Linked DNA regions of Homo sapiens. The protein of the gene in region 3 purifies or fractionates together with the protein of the main gene of each other region. This does not show direct contact. Each region holds a gene or a part of one and is shown on either strand. Other genes may lie near its edges.

Region 1 (4,262 bases), on a different chromosome or scaffold from region 3:
TGGAGGCCAATCCCTGTCCTGCTAGCAAAGTGATGCAGGGCACACAGAATCATTGAGCCCAGCAAACTTGACCTTGGGGATGACAGAGACTTCACAGGAGACACGCCATAACAGAAGGGGCACTAAAGGGCTGGAGGCACCGGCTTTCCCTAGGCAGGGACCACCCCATTGAAGAGATGCCTTTGGGTTCAGTCCCAGTGGGAGGAGCAAGAGGACTGTAAGAAGATGAGGACGAGGAGCCATGTGGGAGGAGGAGGGGCCACTTGTGGGAGGAGGAGGGGCCACTTGTGGGCGGAGGAGGGGTCACTGGTGGGAGGAGGAGGGGCCACTGGTGGGAGGAGGAGGGGCCACTGGTGGGAGGAGGAGGGGCCACTTGTGGGCGGAGGAGGGGCCACTGGTGGGAGGAGGAGGGGCCACTGGTGGGAGGAGGAGGGGCCATTGGTGGGAGGAGGAGGGGCCACTTCTGAGAGTTGTGAAAAGGCCTTGAGGCCTGAAAACCTCCCACTTTCAGCTACTGTGGCACCCTTAGGCCAAGCTGACTCAGGAGCCCTCGTGGATTCCACAAGGATGGTGTTTTGTTTCATGCTCACAGTGGGGTCTAGGAGGGCTTGCAGGCAGTAAGTGCCAGGACCCGTGTTGGCGCCCGAGGATCCCTGGCATGTTCGGGGACGGTGAGGTCAGTCCAGCAGCGGTGAGGTCAGTCTAGTAGCAGTGAGGTCAGTCTAGTAGCGGTGAGGTCAGTCTAGTAGCGGTGAGGTCGTCAGTCCAGCAGTAGCCTTGCTGGCTGCATGGCATGCCCGGGCCTGGGCCCCTACCCAGCCAGGGCTGTCACAGAGTGAGTAGCAGCAGCCTAGGGCACTGCAGGAGGCTGTGACGTCACTGACGTTCCCATAAGAAGCTAAGTGACAGGGACCAAGGGTGGCTGCAAAGTGAACCCCAGAATCTGAAGCCCTGGCCCTGGGAAGGTCTCCCCATGGGCACGGGAGCTGCTCCAGGACCCCTTTGGCCACTCTCCTGGTTGTCTTCCAGTTCCCAGTCAGGGGCGTCATCTTGGCCCTCACACAGGCAGGTGGTGAGTTGGAGTCCTGAGGTTAAAGAGATTCACGCTAATCACACTATAGCACGGAGTGTTAAAGAGAGGCGGATACCGGGCCGTGAGGACCTCAGGAAGCCCTCAGCCCTCCCCGGATTATCCACGTGCTTCTCACAGCGGTCCTTCCGGCAGGTGCCTGCCCGGGGAATGCGCAGTGCGCCGAGGGCGGGACTGGAACCCTCCGCTCTCAGGAGGCGCGGTCCGGGCGCCAAAAGGTAAGCCTCTGGGGGCCGCCAGGGGACGCTGCCCCGCCGCGGAGGCCGGCACGACTCGGGGCGTGGCCTCCAGCCTCGCCCACCGCCCACGGGGCGGGGCTCTGGCTCCGGCGCGTGCGCACTACGCGCCCTCCCGCAGGGCCTGCTGGGCTGCGAGACGCTAAGCGGCGCCGGGCGGGAGAAGAGCGGAGCAGTGGTCGGAGATGTGGCGACCGGTGAGGACTCTCCCGGCCCGGGGCGCCCGAGATCCTGCACACCAGCCCCAGAGACCCGAGACCCGCAAGTCCCCAGACCCCGCCCTAGAGACCCTCGGGGCTTTTTCCCTCTTTTTTTTTGAGGCAGGGTCTCGCTCTGTCGCCCTGGAGCGCAGTGGTGCGATCTCCGCTCACCGCAGCTTCCGCCTCCCGGACTCAGGCGATCCTCCCGCCTCGGCCCCGCAAGTAGCTGACACCGCAGGCGTGACCGCTCCCGGCCGACTCTGTTTAGCAGAGTCGGGGTCTCGCCGTGTTGCTCAGGCTGGTCTCGAATTCCTGGGCTCTAGCGATCCGCCCGCCTCAGCCTCCCCGAGAGCTGGGATTTCAGGCGGGAGCCGCGCCCGCAGCCCTGACGCCGCCTGCACCGGGAGCCGCAGGGGCCCCTCCGCCCAGCCCGGAGGCGGGTGCCCGGCGCCCCGGAGAGCGCGATCTCCAGAGGGCAGGGGCCCCGCGGGGAAGCCTCAGGCGCCGTTCCCCTCGCGAGGCGGCCTCCCGGAATCACGGACGCCTCCCTGCCCAGCCTGCTGCCCCGGACCTCCTTCGCTCGCCTCCCCGCCGGGCCTGCCCTGCCCTGAGGCGGCGGGCGGGCGGGGGCTGCAGGCCGGGCTCTGCTCTGAGCGCCCCTGCGTCGTCTCAGGGGCGCGCCCCCCATGGCTCCGAGGCCCCCTCTCTCAGGCTCTCGGCGTCTCCCCGCTCCCACGTCGCCGCCGGGTCCCGTTGCTCTGTCCCTGCGGTTAGGACTGCGGGGGGGCGGGGCAGAGGCCTTGACACGCATCTTACCCACCCCCTTCCAGAAGAGATGAAGGGGCTCCCAGCGCCGTTCCTTTTTTTCTTGGAATGTCAGCAGAGCTTGTGTTTGGCGATAAGCTAGCCTTGCCCGTCTGGCTATAAATAGCACAGATGGACGGCCCACTCGTGCCCCAGCCCAGCTGTGTGACCCCAGGGTGCTTCATGGGCCGGGGAGGTGGCCTTCAGTGCAGCTCCTTCCAGGTGACAAAGTCTTCCCACGTGCAGGCCACTCAGTCCCTCCCCAGCCCCAGCGAGTGGACAGGTCGGTTTAGCCTCTGGTTAGGAGCTGCTCATGGCCAGTGAGCAGGGCTGGGTCCAGGCGGCGTTTGAGGACTGGCTGGGGCTGACAGGGTCACACACCCTGGGAGAAGGACAGTGTCTGTGGTCGCCAGACCCACTTACCCTGCCCAGACTCCCAATCTGTCTCTTCCTAACTTTGGGGACAATTATGTGCCTCAGTTTCCCCTCATGTTGAGGTGCACAGTGCTGTTGGGTTCCCCAGGCTCTGGTCATCCGTTCATGGTTTTTAGTTTCTGGCATCATTCTGAGACTCGGCAGTTGCTTCTCACTGCTGCGGCCGGGCCTGTCTGTGGGAGCTGCATCCTCCTCATCTGCAGGCGCTGGAAAACCAGACACGATCGGACATGCATGTGGTTCTGCGGCCAAAGCACGCCCTTTGGTTGTGAACTTCATGATACCTGTGTGAGTGTTACCACTCAGAATACTTGCCGCTTTCAAGGTAGTCAGCTGTGGTCTAGAGTCACTCTGGAACGGGAGGTGTTTCCGTTTGTGCAGACAGACTGCACACACTCACCATAAGAAAGCATGAGAGGTTCTGACAGGGGGCACCCGTTTCATCTTGTCCAAACTGGAAGGCTTTGGAAGTCAGGGGAGCTGCAGGGATAAGTGTCACCAGGGCCGTCTCAGGTGTGTTGGGGGAAGGCCCTGGGGACCCACCGTCTAAAAGACGGCTTATCTTCTGGCAGTTTAGAGGTCGTGTTCTGGGTGCGGTTGGGGCTGTGTGTCACGTGAGAATTGCCCTGGATTGGGCTCTGGGAAGTCCTTCTGGGAGATGCAGCTGCAGGCTCGCCCCCCAACCCATAACCTCTCTGGGCCTTGGGGACCTCTCCTGTGTGATGGGAATTTCAGAGAGGATAGTCTGGGTGTGCTGGGCGCTCCACATTTGGAGGAGACAGGCTCTTGCTCAGCCTCATGGGCCCTGGCAGGCACTGTGGGTTATCAGTGCCTGTTGCTTGGCAGGGCCATGTGGGGTTCAATTGAGTCCTGTGCTTCACAGCTGTTGGTCTCATTCGGCAGGCATTCATTGAGTGCCTGCTTGTTCAGAGATGGTTGAGAGGTGGCCCTGCTCACAGTCTAGTGGGAGGACAGATTCCGTAAGTTGACAGTCACGCTGGTGTGTGATGAGGACAGTGGCAGGATAGGACCACGGTGAACAAGGTGGAGCGGGACGTGAGCATGAGCAAGGCTGCTGGTGGACCAGGGTAGGGTGATGGTGGCCCGGGGTCTACTGGAGGGATCTCTGTCCTGGATAAGAATGGGAGTGAGAGACGCAGCTGGAGCCCCTTCTGCAATGCTGGTTCCTGAGGAAAGAGCAGAAAACTGTTGTTGGAGACAGCAGTCAGCCAGCCATGACTTTCCTGGCCTCACCTGTTTGGTGGAGCCTGTGGAAACAGCTTGCGTTGCTGGTCATGGATGAGGTGGGCAGTGGCTGGGATAGCCACCTGGAGGTAGCTCCCTTGCAGCCACTTACGAGCTGCTGTTCAGAGTCTCTCCACAGTCCGTGGGCACGACTGCCTGATCTCGGGGCCTCTAGCCATGCATGCACTGGCACCAGAGGTGGCTAGGGTCAGGAGGTGCAGGCTGGGTAGGCAGCAGGTGGATGGCCCGCCT
Region 2 (3,444 bases), on a different chromosome or scaffold from region 3:
TGCTGACTTTAGTTAAACATCAGTAGGCTTCAAGAGGCAACAGCTTCTTATGCTTCTTCCTGCTCTCTGCTTTTACTCCCCTCACAGCCTTACCAGCAACGTCTTCAGTGGTAAGATTTAGTAGAAACTCCTAGAGCCCTTTTGGAAAGACATTTGGTGTTATGCATGAGATCCTCAAAACTGCTCATTTATCCCATTTCATCCAAAATGACATTTACTATTTTTACTGTTTATTCCAAAACGCAGGAAAAGCTTCATATAAGATATTCGTTGCAGTATCTAAACGAGTGACCAACCAGAAACAATTCAAATGTCCAGCAATATGGAAATTGTCCAGGATAAACTTATGTCATACTCCCACTTGATAGACAATTATGTTGCTATTATAAACAACTACAGCCAGGCACGGTGGCTCACGCCTGTAATCCCAGCACTTTAGGAGGCCAAGGCAGGCAGATCACAAGGTCAGAAGTTTGAGACCAGCCTGACCAACATGGTGAAACCCTGTCTCTACTAAAAATACAAAAATTAGCCAGGCGTAGCGGCGCACACCTGTAATCCCAGCTACTCAGGAGGCTGAGGCAGGAGAATCGCTTGAACCCAAGAGGTGGAGGTTGCAGTGAACCAAGATCGCGCCACTGCACTCCAGCCTGGGCAATACAGCGAGACTCCATATTTAAAACAACAACAACAACAACAACAAAAAAAAACTACAGACTGCCAGGCACGGTGCCTCACACCTGTAATCCCAGCACTTTGGGAGGCCGAGGCAGATGGGATCGCTTGAGGTCAGGAGTTCGAGACCAGCCTGGCCAAGATGGTGAAACCCCTGTCTTTACTAAAAACACAAAAACTAGCCAGGCACGATGGCGCACGCCTGTAATCCCAGCTACTTAGGAAGCTGAGGTAGGAGAATCGCTTGAACCCAGGAGGCAGAAGTTGCAGTCAGCCAAGATCACGCCACTGCACTCCAGCCCGGGTGACAGAATGAGAGTCCATCTCCAAAAAAAAAGAAAAAAGAAACTACAGGCCAAGGCCGGAGGATCACTTGAGCCCAGGAGTTTGAGACTAGCCTGGGCAACATAGTGAGACCTGGTTCTACAAAAAAATAAAAAAATTAGCTGGGCATGGTGGCATACTCCTGTAGTCCCATCTACTTGAGGAGCTGAAGTGAGAGGATCACTTGAGCCCAGGAGGTCAAGGTTGCACTGAGCCGTAATTGTACTGCACTCCAGCCTGTGTGACAGAGTGAGACCCTGTCTCCAAAAAACCAATTATGATGACCATGTAAAATGGGAAAATGATAATAGTGAGAAAAGTATATAAAATTAAATGTACAGTAATGATAACTATCTCTAAAACCTATGCAGAGAATTAGTAAAAGACAACAAAATGTTAACGGTTGTTATTAACGAGCTGGGAACATGGGTGACCTTTTTAAAATCCCTACCAAATTTTCTTGAATGTGCGTATATACTTTTATAGGGAAAGGCGTCTATGTGTGTGTATGTGAGGTCTACCTCCATTTAGACTTGAAGGTGCTGCAGCCAATTGTAATAATGGTAAAAAGGTTCCTGGGAATCTGTGCCTCCAGGGTTCAGTGCAACCGCACTAGTAAAGCAGTTTCCAGGGCTCCTTGGCACCCTTTAATACCAATGTTATCCTGCTCTAAAATGCCTGTACTTGCCTAACTCCTAAGAAGACCCCCAAATACCACCTGGATGATAAGATTCGATCATTATGGTTCTCAGATACCACTTTAATCAGGTTTTTCACTATACAGTGATGGGGGTAGAAGATGGTGACTGTTTTCAAGCAAATTCACGAGGCACATGTTCGTCCCTGCCCCAAAGTGAACAGTCTGGGCTTCCCAGAACAGAAAAGTGCTTTCCTTCCTGGGGGAATCCCATTCCTGAGCTGACAAGACAGATTTCAGTAAGAATGAGCACAAAGGATAGGGCAAAATAGTGAAGGGAGCCAGGTGCATATTTGAATTCTTTCCAGTGCAGACTGGAACTAGACATGCAGGTATCCCTCCTAAAGGCAACGCCCAAATCCCAGCCATTCCCACTAGAGGCCAAACCGCCTGCCCACAGAGATTGACAGCCAATGTTCATCTCATAACTCTCCTCCCAGCAGTGCACCAGTAAACTCAGATGCCTGAGTGCTTGTGGCCACCACACAACAGATGCGGCCTTCCTCTTCACTGGCCCCTCGGCTGCTGCTGGGTCTGCCTGGCCATCAAGGAGCAGCCAGTATTTGTGTGGCTGTGTGGTGTGGGAAGGGCCAGAATAAGCAACAAAGCCAATTAGATGTGGGTTCTGGGGCTCTGTCAACATGGTAGCAGGACAAGTCACCACCCACAGTAGGACCATAGGGCCCTGTGTCCTCCATTAATTCTTCTCTGGGCGGTTTCTGTTCAGCACAGCTTTCGGGGCAAATTCTAGCTTGTCCTTAAGGCTCACCACCTGCGTGTGGTCCTTGCCTAGAAGCTCATCCAGCTTGCGATCCTCCCGGCGCTCTGAGATGCTCTTTTCCTCCTCCACGGGCTGGGGGTCCTTTCCCCTGATGAACCATTCCAGGTGGTAACCCACAGCCCCGACCACGAAGGCAACAGGGAATGTGACATAAGGAGCATAGGTACGAACCACGGTCCAAAACACAGGCCACATGACATCTGCGGAAAAGCACAAGGCAGCATTAGAGAACCCAGCATCATCTCCCACCAAATAAGAGCAACCCACTAGAGCTCTCCACTTACCAGGCAGCCTGGCACAATTTTTTTTTTTTTTTGAGACGGAGTCTTGCTCTGTCGCCCAGGCTGGAGTGCAGTGGCACGATCTCAGCTCACCGCACCCTCCACCTCCCAGGTTCAAGCAATTATCTGCCTCAGCCTCCCAAGTAGCTGGGATTACAGCTAATTTCTGTATTTTTTTAGTAGAGACAGGGTTTCACCATGTTGGTCAGGCTGGTCTTGAACTCCTGACCTCGTGATTCACCCACCTCAGCCTCCCAAAGTGCTGGAATTACAGGCGTGAGCCACCACACCTGGCCAGCCTGGCACAATTTACTGAGCACCCACCCCCGTGCAGAGCAATGCGAGAGGTGGATCCCTGAAATAATCTAGGAAATTTCAAAAGATTCCATTGTTAGGGAAGAAGGAAGGATCTCCATTTTACGGACCGTACTCTTTGACAAGTGTGCACCAATATATGACAATGTTCCCCACAAGGGGACCTCTGAGCCTTACCTAATAGAGCTTCAAGCCTATTGTTGACCCCAGGACCTAGTCTGCCAACATTTCAAGAAGGGAAAAAGATGCCTTTCTCTGCTCTATGAAATTTCTCCATGAGCACAGCCGGCCACCTTTTCCCCATGAAACACAATCTACGATGAATCTCCTGGTTTCACAATATGAAAAGTCGTTCCTTTTCCTCATGTAAA
Region 3 (5,091 bases):
AAAACTTTGTATTTTTGTACTAAAAATGCAAAGGTGTTTATATTGTGTGACCAAATAAAAAGTAAAATTTTTTGGCTGCTGAAACATTACCACCATCCATAATTCTTTTTTCTTTTTTTTTTCTTTTTTTTTTTTTTCGAGACACAGTTTTGCTCTGTCATCCAGGCTGGAGTGCAGTGGCACAATCTGGGCTCACTGCAACCTCCACCTTCCAGGTTCACGAAGTTCTCCTGCCTCAGCCACCAAGTAGCTGGGATTATAGGCATGTGCCACCACGCCCAGGTAATTTTTGTATTTTTAGTAGAGATGAAGTTTCGCCATGTTGGCCAGGCTGGTCTTGAACTCCTAACCTCAAGTGATCTGCCCGCCTCGGATTACAGGCATGAGATTACAGGCATGAGCCGCTGCACCTTGCCTCATCCATAATTATTATATTATTATTTTTTTTGAGACAGACTCTCCCTCAGTTGCCCAGGCTGGAGTGCAGCGGTGTGATCCTGGCTCACGGCAACCTCCACCTCCTGGGTTCAAGGGATTCTCCTGCCTCAGCCTCCCAAGTACCTGGGACTACAGGCGCGCACCATCACACCCAGTTATTTTTGTATTTTTAGTAGAGATGGGGTTTCACCATGTTGGCCAGGCTGGTCTTGAACTTCTGGCCTCAAGTGATCTGCCCACCTCAACTTTCCAAAGTGCTGGGATTAGAGACGTGAGCCACTGCGCCCGGCCTCATCCATAATTCTTGATAAGTAGACAAGTCCATCAAAACAGCTGTACAGTCCTCATTGTTTAAATTTTTAAGTAGATGTTCAAAATTGGGAACTTTAAAAAAAGTTACGTGAATAAAGTACAGCTTTTATGTTTTGTTGTTAGCCCAGGCTGGAGTACAGTGGCGCCATCTTGGCTCACTGCAACTGCCACCTCCCGGGTCCCGGTTCAAGCAATTCTCCTGCCTCAGCCTCCTGAGTAGCTGGGATTACAAGAACATACCACCATGCCCAGCTGATTTTTGTATTTTTATTAGAGATGGGGTTTCACCATGTTGGCTAGGCTGGTCTTGAACTCTTGACCTCGTGATCTTCCCGACTCAGCCTCCAAAAGTGTTGGGATTACAGGTGTGAGCCACCGTGCCCGGCCAGCATTTATGTTTTAGTATGAAATTTAAATGCTAAAAAGTTGCTTGACAAATTCAACATCCATTCCTAATAAAAAGAGTAACAGACAGAACAAAGATTACTTAAACCCAAAAGCTAACATCATATGTCACAAACACTAGATCCTGTATTTTCTGCTATTGTGATACCGCATGACTGACTACAGCTGTTCTGACACAGATCTGGCTACTGAGCTAAGAAATGAAACCACCTCAGAAGCAGAAGCCCTGGGAAAGAAGAGGCAGATGATTACTATGTACTAAGATCACAGCCATAAACTAAACCTGGGCTGCTACAAGAGCTGAACAAATAACAGGAAAGGGGCCAGATACAAGAAAATTGTACAACTTAGCAACTTACGGGACAGCAATGATCACTTAGAAAAGATAATGAAAAGAATTAATGAAAATAATAAACATCTGGGAATTATCTAAAATGCAATGCATGTGGCCTATACAAAGAAAACAGGCCGGGTGCAGTGGCTCACACCTGTAATCCCAGCACTTTGGGAGGCCAAAGGCAGGAGGACTGCTTGAGTCCAGGAGTTCAAGAGCAGCCTGGACAACATAGTGAGAACCTGTCTCTACAAAAAATACCAAAAAGAAAAAAATTTAGCAAGGCATGTTGGTAATGCCTGTAGTCCCAGCTACTCAGGAGGCTAAGGTGGGAGAATGGCTTGAGCCTGGGAGATCAAAGCTGCAGTGAGCCATGATTGCACCACTGCACTCTAGCCTGGGCAATGAACAGAATGAGATCCTGTCTCAAAAAAAAAAAAAAAAGTAATATTCCTTCCCAACTGGTTTAATGACACTTCAGATACAATCCCAAAAAGACTGTTTTAGAAGTAAAATGGTTCAGCTCATCTAGAAGGAAGGTCCAGACTGACGAGGTTTGGGGGAACTGGTCCCCAGGGAGGAACAACTGCTGGAGAACTCACTAAAGAAAATAACGGGAGCAGCTAGGCGCAGTGGCTCACACCTGTAATCCCAGCACTTTGGGAGGCCGAGGTAGGTGGATCATCTGAGGTCAGGAGTTTGAGATGAGCCTGGCTAATGTGGTGAAAATTTTGTACTTTTGTACTAAAAATGCAAAAATTAGCTGGGTGTGGTGGCGGCGTCTCTAATCCCAGCTACTAGGGAGGCTGAGGCAGGAGAATCGCTTGAACCCGGGAGGCAGAGGTTGCAGTGAGCCGAGATTGCACCACTGCACTCTAGCCTAGGTGACAAGAACAAAACTCGGTCTCAAAAAAAAAAAAAAAAAAAAAAAATTAGCTGGGTGTGGTGTGCGCGCCTGTAATCCCAGCTACTTGGGAGGCTGAGGCAGATAACTGCTTGAACCCGGGAGGTGGAGATTGCAGTGGGCAGAGATCACGCCACTGCATTCCAGCTTGGTGACAGCGCGAGACTCTGTCTCAAAAAAAATAAAAATAAAAAAAAAAAAGAAAATGCAACCTTAAGGAAAAAGACATAAGAAAACCAATTTCTTTTCTCATCCAAAGTTATAATAAAACGTTATTCGTGGACCTTAAAGTTGCAGTTTCTGCCAGGCATGGTGGCTCACACCTATAATCCCAGCACTTTGGGAGGCTAAGGCAGGCAGATCACGGGAGGTCAGGAGTTCAAGACCAGCCTGGCCAACATGGTGAAACCCCGTCTCTAATAAAAATACAAAAATTAGCCAGGTGCGGCCGGACGCGGTGGCTCATGCCTGTAATCCCAGCACTTTGGGAGGCCATGGCGGGCGGATCACGAGGTCAGGAGATTGAGACCATCCTGGCTAACACGGTGAAACCCCATCTCTACTAAAAATACAAAAAATTAGCCGGGCGTGGTGGCGGGCGCCTGTAGTTCCAGCTACTTGGGAGGCTGAGGCAGGAGGATGGCATGAACCCGGGAGGTGGATCTTGCAGTGAGCTGATATTGCGCCACTGCACTCCAGCCTGGGTGACAGAGCGAGACTCCGTCTCAAAAAAAAAAAAAAAAAAATTAGCCAGGCGCAGTGAGGCATGCCTGCAATCCCAGCTACTCGGGAGGTTGAAGCAGGAGAATCACTTGAACCTGGGAGGCGGAGGTTGCAGTGAGCCAAGCATGTGCCACTGCACTCCAGTCTGGGTGACAGAGCAAGGCTCTGTCTCAAAAAAAAAAAAAAAAAAAAAGAAAAAAAAAAAGTCGCAGTTTCCAAGAACCTACAGACATTAAATGAGACTTGCTGTACATCAAAATACTGACACTGGGCACTTTGAGGGCACAGTTGCCAGTGCCCACTCCAACTGGGAGTCCAACAATTAAATTCCATTTAATTCCTGTTAGGGGACAGGAAGCCTTCTGTCCCCAGCTCTCCAAGTGCAACTGGGCACTGAGGTTAGGAATGTTTCTATACTGTCTATAGATTCACTGAGGCATGTGACAATCATTTTCAAAATGGAAAGATAAAGGTTTAAAAGAAACAAAGAACAGGAAAGTAGGATACACTGTTTCCCTCAAAAATCAAGAGTCACTCGTGACTCTCCACCATTTTCAAACCCTGTTTTCAAACAGACAGGTGCAGAGTGATACTGATTTACTCACAGGCAGTTCCTCAACCCCAGGGTGCTGGCACAGCTGAGATGAGCAGGATCCCCTGGACTACCTGTAACAGGAACAGGGGAAAATAAATGAGTAGTAAATCAGGGATTTATACTGATACCTTTTTTTGTTGTTGGTTTTTGGAGTTTCGCTCTTGCGCCCAGGCTAGAGTGCAATGGCGTGATCTCGGCTCACTGCAACCTCCACCTCCTGGGTTTAATTGATTCTCCTGCCTCAGCCTCCTGAGTAGCTGGAATTACAGGTGCCCACCACCATGCCCAGCTAATTTTTTTTTTTTAGTAGAGACAGGGTTTCATTCACCATGTTGGCCAGGCTGGTCTCAAACTGCCGACCTCAGGTGATCCGCCCGCCTTGGCCTCCCAAAGTGCTGGGATTACAGGCATGAGCCACCGTGCTCAGCCTTTTGTTCATTTTGATTTATTTGACTTTGCCCAGGCTGGAATGCAGTGGTACAGTCACGGCTCCCTGCAGCCTTGAACTCCTGGGCTCAAGGGATCCTTTTGCCTCAGCCTCCCAAGTAGCTGGGACTACAGGTGTGCACCATCAGGCCAGGCTAATTTTTGTAAAGACGGGGTTTCGTTTTGTTGCCTAGGCTGGTCTCCAACTTTTGGCCTCGAGCGACCCTCCTGCATTGGTCTCCCAAAGTGTTGGGATTACAGGCGTGAGCCACCACTCCCAGCCTGAAACCTTCTTTTAAGTCTGAAAGAAGGCGGGGCGCCGTGGCTCACGCCTGTAATCCCAGCACTTTGGGAGGCAAAGGCGAGTGGATCACCTGAGGCCAGGAGTTCAAGACCAGCTTGACCAGCGGTGAAACCTCATCCCTACTAAAAATACAAAATTAGCCGGGTATGGTGGCACATGCTTGTAAACCCAGCTACTTGGGAGGCTGAGTCAGGAGAATAGCTTGAACCTGGGAGGCAAAGGTTGCAGTGAGCTGAGATCGCACCATTGCACTCCAGCCTGGGCAACAAGAGTGAAACTCCGTCTCAAAAAGAAAAAAAAAATCTGAAAGAGTACAGATCTCTTTTGTAGAAACCTCTGTAAGTTTCTGGAAGCCAGTTCTGAGTGTTGGAAGGTTTCAGAGCACTGCTAAGTGAAGGGTCTGCCCCAGTTATGAAAACAGTATCTCAAAGTAGTCCTAAAAAAAGATGGGAAGCCTCAAGTAGATCCTGACTCCAGACACCCCAAGAGGGAAGCCAAGCAGGCCAGCCCTAGGGAGGGAGCACTCCTACCGGTGGCACCATCCCCACTCACTTCAGCTGGCTCTGGTGGAAACATGACCTCTATGCAGACAGCCCTATAGAGCAAGCAATGATCCCAAGGGGCAAGAGCTGTAAGAATTACTACAACCG
Region 4 (3,500 bases), on a different chromosome or scaffold from region 3:
AGCTGTCCTTTGTTTTTTTATGTGTGTGTGTGTGTTTTGTTGTTGTTTTTTGTTTGTTTTCTTTTTGTGTTTTTTTTTGAGATGGAGTCTCATTCTGTTGCCCAGGCTAGAGTGCAATGGTGCAATCTCAGCTCACTACAACCTCCCCCTCCCAGGCTCAAGCGATTCTCCTGCCTCAGCCTCCCCAGTAGCTGGGATTAACAGGCCCCCACCATCACACCTGGCTAATTTTTGTATTTTTTTTTTCTGAGTCGGAGTCTAGCTCTGTCTCCCGGGATGGAGTGCAGTGGCATAATCTCAGCTTGCTGCAAGCTCTGCCTCCCGGGTTCACGCCATTCTCCTGCCTCAGCCTCCCAAGTAGCTGGGGCTACAGGCGCCCGCCACCACGCCTGGCTAATTTTTTTGTATTTTTTAGTAGAGACGGGGTTTCACCGTGGTCTTGATATCGTGACCTTGTGATCCGCCCGCCTTGGCCTCCCAAAGTGCTGGGATTACAGACGTGAGCCACCGTGCCCAGCCAATTTTTATATTTTTAATAGAGACGGGATTTCACTACGTTGGCCAGGCCGGTCTCAAACTCCTGACCTCAGGTGATCCGCCCACCTCGGCCTCCCAAAGTGCTGGGATTACAGGCGTGAGCCACTGTGCCCGGCCTCAGCTTACAGCTGTCCTAAGAACACCTGCTTACACTAGGCAGTTGCCAGCTAAATTTAAATGCGTATTTTGGAAATAACCAACTGCTTTGTAAATTAGAGATTTATTGTATTTAGTGTATTGCATATAAAAAAATTACTGCTTTTGTTTGTTTTTAAGCTCTGTATGAAAAAGCTGATATCAAGGGGCCTGAAGACAAGAAGAAACACCTCCTTATTGGTGTGTCCTCAGATCGAGGACTGTGTGGTGCTATTCATTCCTCCATTGCTAAACAGATGAAAAGCGAGGTTGCTACACTAACAGCAGCTGGGAAAGAAGTTATGCTTGTTGGAATTGGTGACAAAATCAGAGGCATACTTTATAGGTAATTTAAATATATATTGTTTATTTTCATAAAGATGTAAGCACGAATAAATCTTCTCTCAAAAGTTTTGACAAACTCTCAAAACCTTCATCAATAACAAGGTATATTCTTCAGGGCCTTTTTTGGTATATTCACAAGGGGGTGTTTGTTTCCTTTTTCTTTTTTCCAGGATATATTGGAACATTTCTGTTTTCCTTCCCCTGTTTTCTACCTTTGCTTCTTCATCCGGATCATAAGTTGAATGCCATGTGAATATCAAAAGCTATCAGCATTAAGCCAAATGAGGCATCTGAGGAGCTGTTACAGCCTGGAAATGTTAGCAATAGTTCATTAGGATTAGAAGGAGAGGAATAAAGGGGAAAAGAATATAAAACAGACCTCATTTTTAGTTCTTAGTTCTTTGCAGGTGCTGAAGGAAAGGAATGATGATAGTGTGTGGAACAACTCAGGAAATCACCACCACCCATACCCCAAAAGACCTGATCCATGGTGACAATGTTTTCTCCTGCCTGTCCCCTGTGCTCTTTCAGCAGAAATCTTATTAAACTAGCTATGTGAGCTCTTGCTTTTCTTATAGGACTCATTCTGACCAGTTTCTGGTGGCATTCAAAGAAGTGGGAAGAAAGCCCCCCACTTTTGGAGATGCGTCAGTCATTGCCCTTGAATTACTAAATTCTGGATATGAATTTGATGAAGGCTCCATCATCTTTAATAAATTCAGGCAAGACAGATTTAGAAATCAAAGCTTTTTTATGTTCATGCTTTTGTTCATATTTTGAAATAACAGTTTAAAAATTATTTTGAGATTTACATTTGTTTTTGTCAATTCTAGGTCTGTCATCTCCTATAAGACAGAAGAAAAGCCCATCTTTTCCCTTAATACCGTTGCAAGTGCTGGTAAGTAGTTTTTCTATGATACATATTTTTTGGCATATAGAATGGAGAGATTTGTACACTAAGGCAGACAGTGTCAAGATATCTGGTGGTAGCTATAGCAAATGATTTGGGGCTGTTTCTTTTTTAGATGGAATCTTGCTGCCTCCCAGGCTGGAGTGCAGTGGCACCATCTCGGCTCACTGCAAGTTCCGCCTCCTGGGTTCACACCATTCTCCTGCCTCAGCCTCCCTAGTACCTGGGACTACAGGCACCCGCCACCAAGCCTGGCTAATTTTTTGTATTTTTAGTAGAGACGGGGTTTCACCATGTTAGCCAGGATGGTCTCAATCTCCTGACCTCGTGATCCACCCGCCTCGGCCTCCCAAAGTGCTGGGATTACAGGCATGAGCCCAGCCTTTTATTTTTTTATTTTTTATTTTTTGAGACGGAGTCTCACTGTGTCACCCAGGCTGAAGTGCAATGGCATGATCTCGGCTCACTGCAACCTTCGCCTCCCGGGTTCACGCCGTTCTCCTGCCTCAGCCTCCCAAGTAGCTGGGATTACAGGTGCACGCCACCACGCCTGGCTAATTTTTGTATTTTTAGTAGAGACAGCATTTCACCGTGTTCGCCAGGCTGGTCTTGAACTCCTGCCCTCAAGTGATCCACCTGCCTTGGCCTTCCAAAGTGCTGGGATTACAGGCATGAGCCACTGCACCCGGCCGATCTGGGGCTGTTTCTGAGAAGTGCCATCTCTTGACTTCCATGATACTTAATTCAGTCATTGTTTGATAACTCCTGCTCTATTCTGTCATTAATTGAAAAGTCAGTATCTATTGAGGTTCATCATTAGATTTTTTTGTCCTCAAGGATTGAAGAGCGTAGCTAGAAACTGGCTTTGCAAGTTATGTTTGGGACCTCTAACTACAATAAAACAGAAGCTCTAGAATAGAGAGTTGAACAGTGTTCACAGCTAATTTACATTGACTGACTCAATTCTCTTGTTTTATTGTTGGAATAAAGTCATCATTGATCATTGAAGCATCCTGGAATAATATTCTGGAACTGATTTTAGTTTTCTAAGGCTTTTTTCCCTTGTATATACCATCTATTTTCTAATACTTCATTTATTTTCAAGTATGTACTTTACACGTTAATGTTTCTGAAATTGAGATGGCTCTACCAGCCAATGGAACATCATTTATAATTGAGTACATTTTTTTCTCTCTTAATGAGAAATAAAGTAGGTGTTACAACCAGTACCATTTAATGAAATATAGTATTTTGATAATATATAGTACTGTGTCACCACTTGACCCCAATGAATGAATTTTGAAATGTACTTCTAAATTTCTACAACATTAAAACTACGATTCATACCAATTTCTAGTTCTCCCACTCTTTCATGTGCTTTGAAAGGTTTTCCCTCTCTCATTTTCCAGATTGATACATTCAGATTTCTTCAGTAATCAAATGACTAAGTTGGAATTACTGCACAGGTTGAGTATCCCTTGTGTGAATGCTTAGGACCAGAAATGTTTGGGATTTCAGAATATTTTCATATTTATAATGCAGTATCTTGGGGACAGGACCTGAGTCTGTACAC

The links.
Region 1: the proteins of LETM1 (region 3) and ADCK5 purify together in Homo sapiens (affinity purification with mass spectrometry; one large-scale study listed by BioGRID and IntAct). This does not show direct contact.
Region 2: the proteins of LETM1 (region 3) and SMIM12 purify together in Homo sapiens (affinity purification with mass spectrometry; one large-scale study listed by BioGRID and IntAct). This does not show direct contact.
Region 4: the proteins of LETM1 (region 3) and ATP5F1C fractionate together in Homo sapiens (co-fractionation; one large-scale study listed by BioGRID). This does not show direct contact.

The regions. Positions count from the first base shown.
Region 1 is NC_000008.11:144,372,585-144,376,846, forward strand, and holds the start of ADCK5 (uncharacterized aarF domain-containing protein kinase 5), read left to right. Parts: upstream 1-1,462; 5' UTR 1,463-1,511; coding exon 1,512-1,523; intron 1,524-2,241; exon of another isoform or gene 2,242-2,819; coding exon of another isoform or gene 2,820-3,053; intron 3,054-4,262. UniProt on the Homo sapiens protein: The function of this protein is not yet clear. It is not known if it has protein kinase activity and what type of substrate it would phosphorylate (Ser, Thr or Tyr).
Region 2 is NC_000001.11:34,853,306-34,856,749, forward strand, and holds part of SMIM12 (small integral membrane protein 12), read right to left. Parts: intron 3,435-3,444; exon of another isoform or gene 3,251-3,434; intron 2,678-3,250; coding exon of another isoform or gene 2,673-2,677; coding exon 2,394-2,672; 3' UTR 1-2,393.
Region 3 is NC_000004.12:1,845,428-1,850,518, forward strand, and holds part of LETM1 (mitochondrial proton/calcium exchanger protein precursor), read right to left. Parts: intron 3,783-5,091; coding exon 3,722-3,782; intron 1-3,721. UniProt on the Homo sapiens protein: Plays an important role in maintenance of mitochondrial morphology and in mediating either calcium or potassium/proton antiport. Mediates proton-dependent calcium efflux from mitochondrion.
Region 4 is NC_000010.11:7,798,177-7,801,676, forward strand, and holds part of ATP5F1C (ATP synthase F(1) complex subunit gamma, mitochondrial isoform L (liver) precursor), read left to right. Parts: intron 1-813; coding exon 814-1,018; intron 1,019-1,254; exon of another isoform or gene 1,255-1,325; intron 1,326-1,595; coding exon 1,596-1,739; intron 1,740-1,850; coding exon 1,851-1,915; intron 1,916-3,500.